2 linked regions of the Homo sapiens genome follow. The protein of the gene in region 1 purifies or fractionates together with the protein of each later gene. This does not show direct contact. Each region holds a gene or a part of one and is shown on either strand. Other genes may lie near its edges. The genes, in order: SRBD1 and TAOK1.

Region 1 (3,825 bases):
GACTTGCTCACGGTGTACAGATAGTAAGTGATGGAACTGGGTTTCTAAGTTAGGAACATGATTTTGTCAACATTTTGGGAACAGATATATCTCTCTTGGGTGTTTTTACATCAGTTGTGTTCACAAGAGAGATAAATACAACCAGAGTGCTGGTTTAATATTTAATAGTTTAAAATAATAATCTTAAGGACTTGAAATTCTTATGGCCAGCATTTCGTTCTCCTTGGAGCCTAATCTGAATAGGGAATTAAGTAGTAATCAGAAATTTACTTGATGAGCATGGACTCAGAATAGGATGATGAGATAAATCCATTCGTTTGAGTTTATTGAATGTCCACTGTGGTCTAGGCATTATGCTTGTCACAATCACAATTGAATGTTTTAATAGCTTGAAGCTAAGACAGTGGCTGACAACACCCTTTATGATTGACACTTTCTTTAGATATGTCAATTCATTTGATTAGGTTATCAACTCTTTTAGGCCTGGGAGTTATTTTATCTTTATGTCTCTGCTCTGATCCATTCTATTTTGGGCAAAAAATTTAATACTCAGAGGGCTCTCTAATGTTCATTATTTTCAAGTTCAGATGGTGGTGGTGGCAGGTTGGCATTCAGGTGGAGGTGCTCTTTATTGTAGTTCTTAATATTTTTAATAGTGATTCTGGAAAAAATACTTGATAAAAGAGAAGATAGAATTTTGACTAAAATTTAGTTTGGGAATTGTTCATGTTTGTGCCATCTGCATCATTTAGGTAACGGAGAACAGACCAGCTTAGGGGTAGGGTCTTTATCTTATTTACACTATACCCAGTGCCGAGATGGGTGCCAAGTCTCATTTCTTCACACTTGAGCTGTCACTTGGATTGGGGGGCAGTGGCAGTGCAGAGTGTAGTCCCTAGACACCTGTGTGGGCTGCTGTGCGGACTCTTGTTAAAGAAAAATGCCTGACATTAGCCTGCTATCATTCTGTGTTCTATCCTCTACTCTTCAGCAGAAATTGGTGGCATGTGTAGCCTGTTGAGTTGTATGAGTGAATGAGTGTTACTTTTCTGTCTGCTAAGTGGTTGACTTTGATAGCAAGTTTTAATCTTGGTTTTCTGGCATGTGTAGACCTATCCTTTACTCATTTTTAAAAATTAAACTGCTTATTTCTAAATAGTTGACATGCAATGGGAAGAAATAATAGAAGAATTCCATGTACTCTTTATCCATTTTTTCCCGAATGGTAGCATCTTGCAAATCTATAGTAAGATGTCACAACCGAGATACATTGATAAAATCCACTGATCTTATTTAGATTTCTCCAGTTTTACTTGTATTCATTCATGTGTATGTATATGTATGTACTTGGTTCTGTGCAATTTTATCGCACATGTAGGTTTGTGTATCTACCATGACAGAAAAGTTCCATCACCACAAAGATGCCTAGTGTTGCCCTTTTATAGCCACACCCACCTCCCCCCATCATCTCTGACCCTTGCCAACCTCTAATCTCTTCAGGAATGTTATATAAATGTATTCATATAGTATGTAACTTTGAGATTGGCTTTTTTTCCCACTCAACATAATTTACTTGAGATTCTTCCAAGTTATTGTGTGTATCAATAATTTGTTCACTTTTATTTGTGAGTAATAGTCCCAGGAAATTGCTTTTTATCTTCTAATTCTCATATGTTCTCTTTGTGGTTTGATAGAATAGCTCTGTGGCTATTGCTGATACTGCTTTAGAAGACAGAAAAAATAAATTGGATACTGTACAGACTCTGAAAACAGCCAAGACAAAACAGAAATGTGCAGCGCAGCCACATACAGTTCGAAGGACTAAAAAGCTGAAAGTTGAAGAAGAAACCAGCAAAGCCAGCAACTTAGAGGGTGAGAGTAATAGTTCAGAGACACCATCCACAAGCACTGTGTGGGGAGGTACATGCAAGAAGGAAGAGAATGACGATGACTTTACATTTGGTCAGTCCGCTTTAAAGAAAATCAAGACTGAGACATATCCTCAGGGGCAGCCTGTCAAGTTTCCAGCAAATGCCAATAGTACTAAAGAGGAGGTGGAAATGAATTGGGACATGGTACAGGTATGTGCAGCCTTTTTCTGTCACTTTAGTTGTTTTGAGTGCTTTCTTTTTGACTAGCATAGGGGTTGTACTGTCTAAGGGAAGGGCTGGGGGTTTTCAATTCTCTCTTCAGTTTTGCCAGTGATTTCTGGAGGCTTTCCTACTTGTAACTTTCTTGGGTACACTGTTTTGTGTTGTAGCTAATCATCAGTTCTTCAGCTAAGATGTGTGGCCTCTCTTGGCCTTTGCTATGGTGTTTTAGTGAACATAAACTATATAGACAGATTGTACCAACTGGTTGGGCCCCCACAGGTTCATTGTTAAGTTTTTGCTTTGAACTTGGACTGTATTTTCCTATAAAAGCAGTGTAGGTGATTAGGTCACTGGCTGTTCATACATCTATTTAACCCTTAGTATAATGTTGTAATGTACTACAACAAGGCCTAGCGATTTTTGAAAGGAAATTCTGTAAGAATTCCAACTTGAGATGCCAGAATTATATGTCTTACTACAGGGGAAATCAGATTTCTCCCAGTTTTTTTGGCTGGCTTTGGGGACAGTATTGGAGACCCGAAGAGTAGCTAGTGAGCTTTTGTCTGTCCCAGCACATTCTGGGACCATTTTAGACTTAATTATGGTAGTGCCTCTCAGGGTAGGTGGGGGTGACTTCCCTCCCTGTTATCTGTCCCATGTGATTCTATTGTGTACTCTTTCCCTTGCTATGATTGTGGCTGTAGAGCTGAGGGCCTCTGCTGGATCCTGATTCCACTTCTCAATCTGGGACTGCCTGTGTGTCACAAATGTCTTTGTACCCATGCTGCCTTTTCTATTACCTCTTAGTAAAACGTAATTTTTTTTTTTTTTTGAGACGGTGTCTTGCTCTGTCGCCCAGGCTAGAATGCAGTGGTGCTCACTGTCAGCTCCACCTCCCGGGTTCATGCCATTCTCCTGCCTCAGCCTCCCGAGTAGCTGGGACTACAGGCACCTGCCACCACGCCCGGCTAATTTTTCGTATTTTTAGTAGAGACAGGGTTTCACCGTGTTAGCCAGGATGGTCTCGATCTGCCTGCCTCGTGATCTGCCCGCCTCGGCCTCCCAAAGTGCTGGGATTACAGGCATGAGCCACCACGCCTGGCCTGTCACTGGTAATTTTTAATCATGATTTTTCTTCTCTGTGGTGCACTAAGGAATAGAATGTTGCTTTACAGCTTTTCCTCTTACCTTGTTCCTGAATGAATAGTCCAAGGTATCTTGGAAAAACAGAGTATAATTAGGCTCCTTTCTATGCCTTCTTTTTCTTTGTTCATTTATACCTAGAAGGCAGTGTTTTAAAGTGTGGTCCATGGACTACCTGCATCAGATTCACCCTGAAGCCTTTCTTAAAGTTCTTGGTTCCAGACCAGGCCTACAGAGGCAGGTGGACATGTACCACTTCCCTTCTCTTTTCCTTTTCTAACGCTTTTTAAGGTTATTTCCATTGTTGACATAGATCCACCTCTGGTAGTTGGCAGTGTGCAGGAGGAAGTTAAGAAGTTTTAGACTGTGAAGTCTCTGGTCTTTGAGACTTGGTAATAAGTTATTCGTAGTAAAGAGCTACTTATTCTATGACTCTGCTTCCCACCCTCTGTTACAGGGAAAGAGATGTAGAAAATGGCCCTGCCTTAACCTTTTGTCTCTAGGTTACAAGTATATAAGCTCTTTATAATGAGCTTAAGTAGAAAAGAGTTTTTCACCAAGGACATAGGGACCTTTCAAAGAACAAAAG
Region 2 (3,825 bases), on another chromosome or scaffold:
AGAAGAGGCAGGTAAAGGGAGAAAGCCCCTCACCCAATACCAAATCCTTCTCTCCCAGTGGCCATTTCCTGTTGATTTTACAGTTCAGGAGAATCTTAGATGCTTTAGCAGTAATTCCTTTCTTGGCTGTTTTGATCCTCAGCAAAGTATATAATTATTAGTATTAATGGAGTAAAAAAAGTAAGAGGATCAATGGTATCACTACTAAGAAATACATATAGAAAGCACATAAAGATTGTGTGATTTATTGGTTCTTTTTCTTATCATCTTTGCAGAGGAATCACCATCAGTGTTCTTACTTTCCATGGTTCATTTCTCTCTGCATTACTTATCTCTTATTGCATCACAACACAAACTCACAGAAACACTAACTGGCTCCTTCCCCAGCACCATTTTACTGCATTGCAACTTATGATTCCAAATTTTACTTAATGTCCTCTCCACTCACAGAAGTGCTAAGAGGGGATTAAAAAGGAAAAGACTGCATCTAATGACCACCTTCTCATAAACATCAACGCAGAGTACTCATTCTTAAGAAACACATGCATTCTTGCCTTAACTGAGGACTGAAATAACAAAACCAAACAAAAATAACAGAACTTTTAAGTGCCCTGATGGAAATGTACAGTATGAGTTACATCCATCCATCTATACACACATACAGACACTCATATGTATATACAATATATACATACAAATGATAATAGCTATACCAAAAATGTGCATATTTAATACAGTTTTAAAAAGCCAGTAGATCATGGTATAATACAATTTATTTCCACTAGTGAATGGCACAAATGGAGAAATGCAAAGGAGGTGTTTCAAGTACAATGAAGTCATTTTTCACAGGTGAAAATAAATAGTATTATTCCAGTGTCCAACATAATGTATTCTACAAAAGTTTAAAATGCCAGACATTTAGTACTTACAGAAATAGAAAGTTACTAAAGTCTGCTTTATGGTCTCAAAAAGACACTCATAGAGTTTTCAATTTTTGAAAAGGGGGTGAGAAAAAAATTGGTGGAAGCAGGAGGGAGTGTCCAGGATAGTTTCTTTAGTGTACTGAATGTTTACCTGATGTCTAGGCAACCAAAAATCATGACTATGCTAAAATGTTCCATTTACCAACAAATCCTTGACCTAGAGTACTAAGCATATTACACCAGTGTGTGTGGCTTCAAATACAAGACTCTCTATCTCTAGGTATTGAAATGGCGAATAAGAATTGCAGCTCTGAAAATATAATATAAACACATTTTTCAGATAGCATTATACAAATAAAAATACTTTTGGATACTAGAATTTGGGGTTAGAGCTGACTTCAATAAGGGGAGGAAAAAATATGTGCAAAGGGAAGGGAGCTCAATTTGGAATAATATATTTCAAAGTATGTGGCTTTGCATTTTTAAAATGCTAACCAAAAAAAATGTGAGATAGAGTGACCCCAAGGAACTTTTTACAGCCAGCCTCTGGATACCAGATATAGCATTTACAACTTCTGATATGCTAGACAAATTTTCCATAGTTTTAATTTTCTTAAAGACATATAGTGAGTGAACACCAACACTGGGAAGGAGGTAGTGTTAATTTGATCAAATATTGATATTTCCCCACTGATTCAGAAAGTGCTTGCTCTTTCTCTAGGATATCTCAAAACCCTTCCAATTTTTCTGCTACAAGCTTTACTCTATGATGGTTCCTACTATGTATGAGATTCCTCAGAAGCTAGATCTCACAAACATATACAAACCAATTAATTTGAATCATTTTTTGCAAACTGTATATACTTTAAAGTTAACTTAATGATAAAATCCAGGTATAGTCATGACCTACATGTAAAACTGGTGGCCAAATACATTAGATACAAAACCCTACTGGAGATCTGAATGGACTCAGTAACTCTCAATTTGACTAATTTAAGTCCACAATTGGACTTTAAAATGTACCACCAATAATATTTTGGGTTTGAAAGAGTTTTTGTATGCAAAAGTGATCTGCTTCCCTATTCCACCCATCCAGTAGTACAGAGCAGCCAGATCTATGAATAATTTTTAAGGGTATCAAATTGTATTTTTGACATTTTATTAAATTCTAAAGCTCTCTCGTCATTTTACACCAAATAAGTAATTTCTCAATTTGTTGGAAACGCTATAATACCTGAATGCAAAAAAGATACTGAGACGACTAAAAGCCCCTTTCACTGATATTACAAGTACATGTCATGTCATGTTTACCTAAAAACCGGTGACCTGGAGCATGGGCTGAAAGAACAACACATAAGAGTGCTTCTTGAAACACTGCCTAAAATTTTGTGTGAACTCTATGGTGATCTTGGTTTTAAAAACATTTACATTAAAACATTAATTTTCTTCCAGTTTCCTTAAAATGAATCCCAGAAACTCCTACAGGTGAGGATTCATGGCAACTCGACTGACATACCTGGGAAAGACTTAAAATTTGGTTGAGAAAACCAGGACTTCAACAGTGATAGATTGATTACTGTTTGGTCATTAGTTTGGTCTAGGCAAAGAGTGCCATTGAGAGGGACTTAGAGAGTTCTACCTTGGAGCCCTCTGACTATAGGAAAAGCAGGATCCAGAGTTAGCAGCAAGGATTCTTCAAGACAACTTGGAAGGGAGCAGGACAATAACTTGTAAGAAACTCTGATTTGTCACTGAAAAGGATATTTTTCTTCAAGTCATACTCACAGCTTCCTACCCACCTCCAACACAATTTATATACAAGAAATGGAAAACCAAGAAAATAACTGACTTTTTAGCATTGGGTTCATCCTTCATTGTACAACAAAACATAACAAAACAAAACATGTGCCCCCTGAAAAATAAGAGTTAGCTTTCGTCAAGAGATTCCCTGACCACTATAACTTATTTTACTTTTTTTTTTTAATTGGCCAAACTTCCTAGTTCCTTTTCAGTAGTACTTTAGCACTGAGGCTTGAGACTTGTGGAAGTGGTGTTTCCTATTGTGTGATGTTAACTTGATGCCAAATGGTCACTAAGTCTCAACGAACTAGAAGTTTGTAAAGTACTGCAGCAACGAAAACAGCAATTAAAAATAGAGGACCTGCACATGCAGCAAAATCTACAGTGGTGATGAAGATTAGTCAGCAGCTGGTAAAGTCATTGGCTCAGTGACTCCTGGTTCACTGTGGCAACTAAACATTTAAATAATTGGCTATTCTACTTGTAAACAGAAAATCACATAAGCCAAAAGGAGATAACAATTATGTCTATGTAGTGTGACGAGAATTTCAATAGATGGCAATTTGCAAATATGGCATCAAACACCTCCGGCATTTGATTTGTATTGGCTATATGTCTTTGTTTTTGTACAAACAAAGTAAAAGTACTGTTTGGGGTCTTGGGCATTATAGAGCTTAGCTAGGATGAGATATCACAGTATAAGCAACAAAACGTCAGGACACGTAAGCTTCATCTCCTCACTCTGCTGCGGGACATACCCACCATATGAACTTTCAGGGCCCCTCTCACCCTTCTGGTCTTCCCCATTGAAGGCTCATAGGTTTGTTAATGCAATCCTCACACAACTTGTGATCTCCTTAAGTACCCCCATCTTATCATAATACAAAGAAGGCACAATTGAATGGACAAAAATCACTCACAAGCCTATGACGCATTCAGGAAAAAAGAAAAACTAAGTTGTTTTCTACTCTCTGAAAAAATCAATGAAGTCCTTTAGTGTTCATGGATTTCTACACTTGATCTTAGCCAAAAGGCCGAGAAGCAATGTGTTCATGGATTTCTGCTTTCTTTTTTTAGTCCAAATGAGGCTGAGAAGTCAGAT

The links.
Region 2: the proteins of SRBD1 (region 1) and TAOK1 fractionate together in Homo sapiens (co-fractionation; one large-scale study listed by BioGRID). This does not show direct contact.

Annotation. Positions count from the first base shown.
Region 1 is NC_000002.12:45,597,705-45,601,529, reverse strand, and holds part of SRBD1 (S1 RNA-binding domain-containing protein 1), read left to right. Parts: intron 1-1,694; coding exon 1,695-2,081; intron 2,082-3,825.
Region 2 is NC_000017.11:29,543,565-29,547,389, reverse strand, and holds part of TAOK1 (serine/threonine-protein kinase TAO1), read right to left. Parts: 3' UTR 1-3,825. UniProt on the Homo sapiens protein: Serine/threonine-protein kinase involved in various processes such as p38/MAPK14 stress-activated MAPK cascade, DNA damage response and regulation of cytoskeleton stability. Phosphorylates MAP2K3, MAP2K6 and MARK2.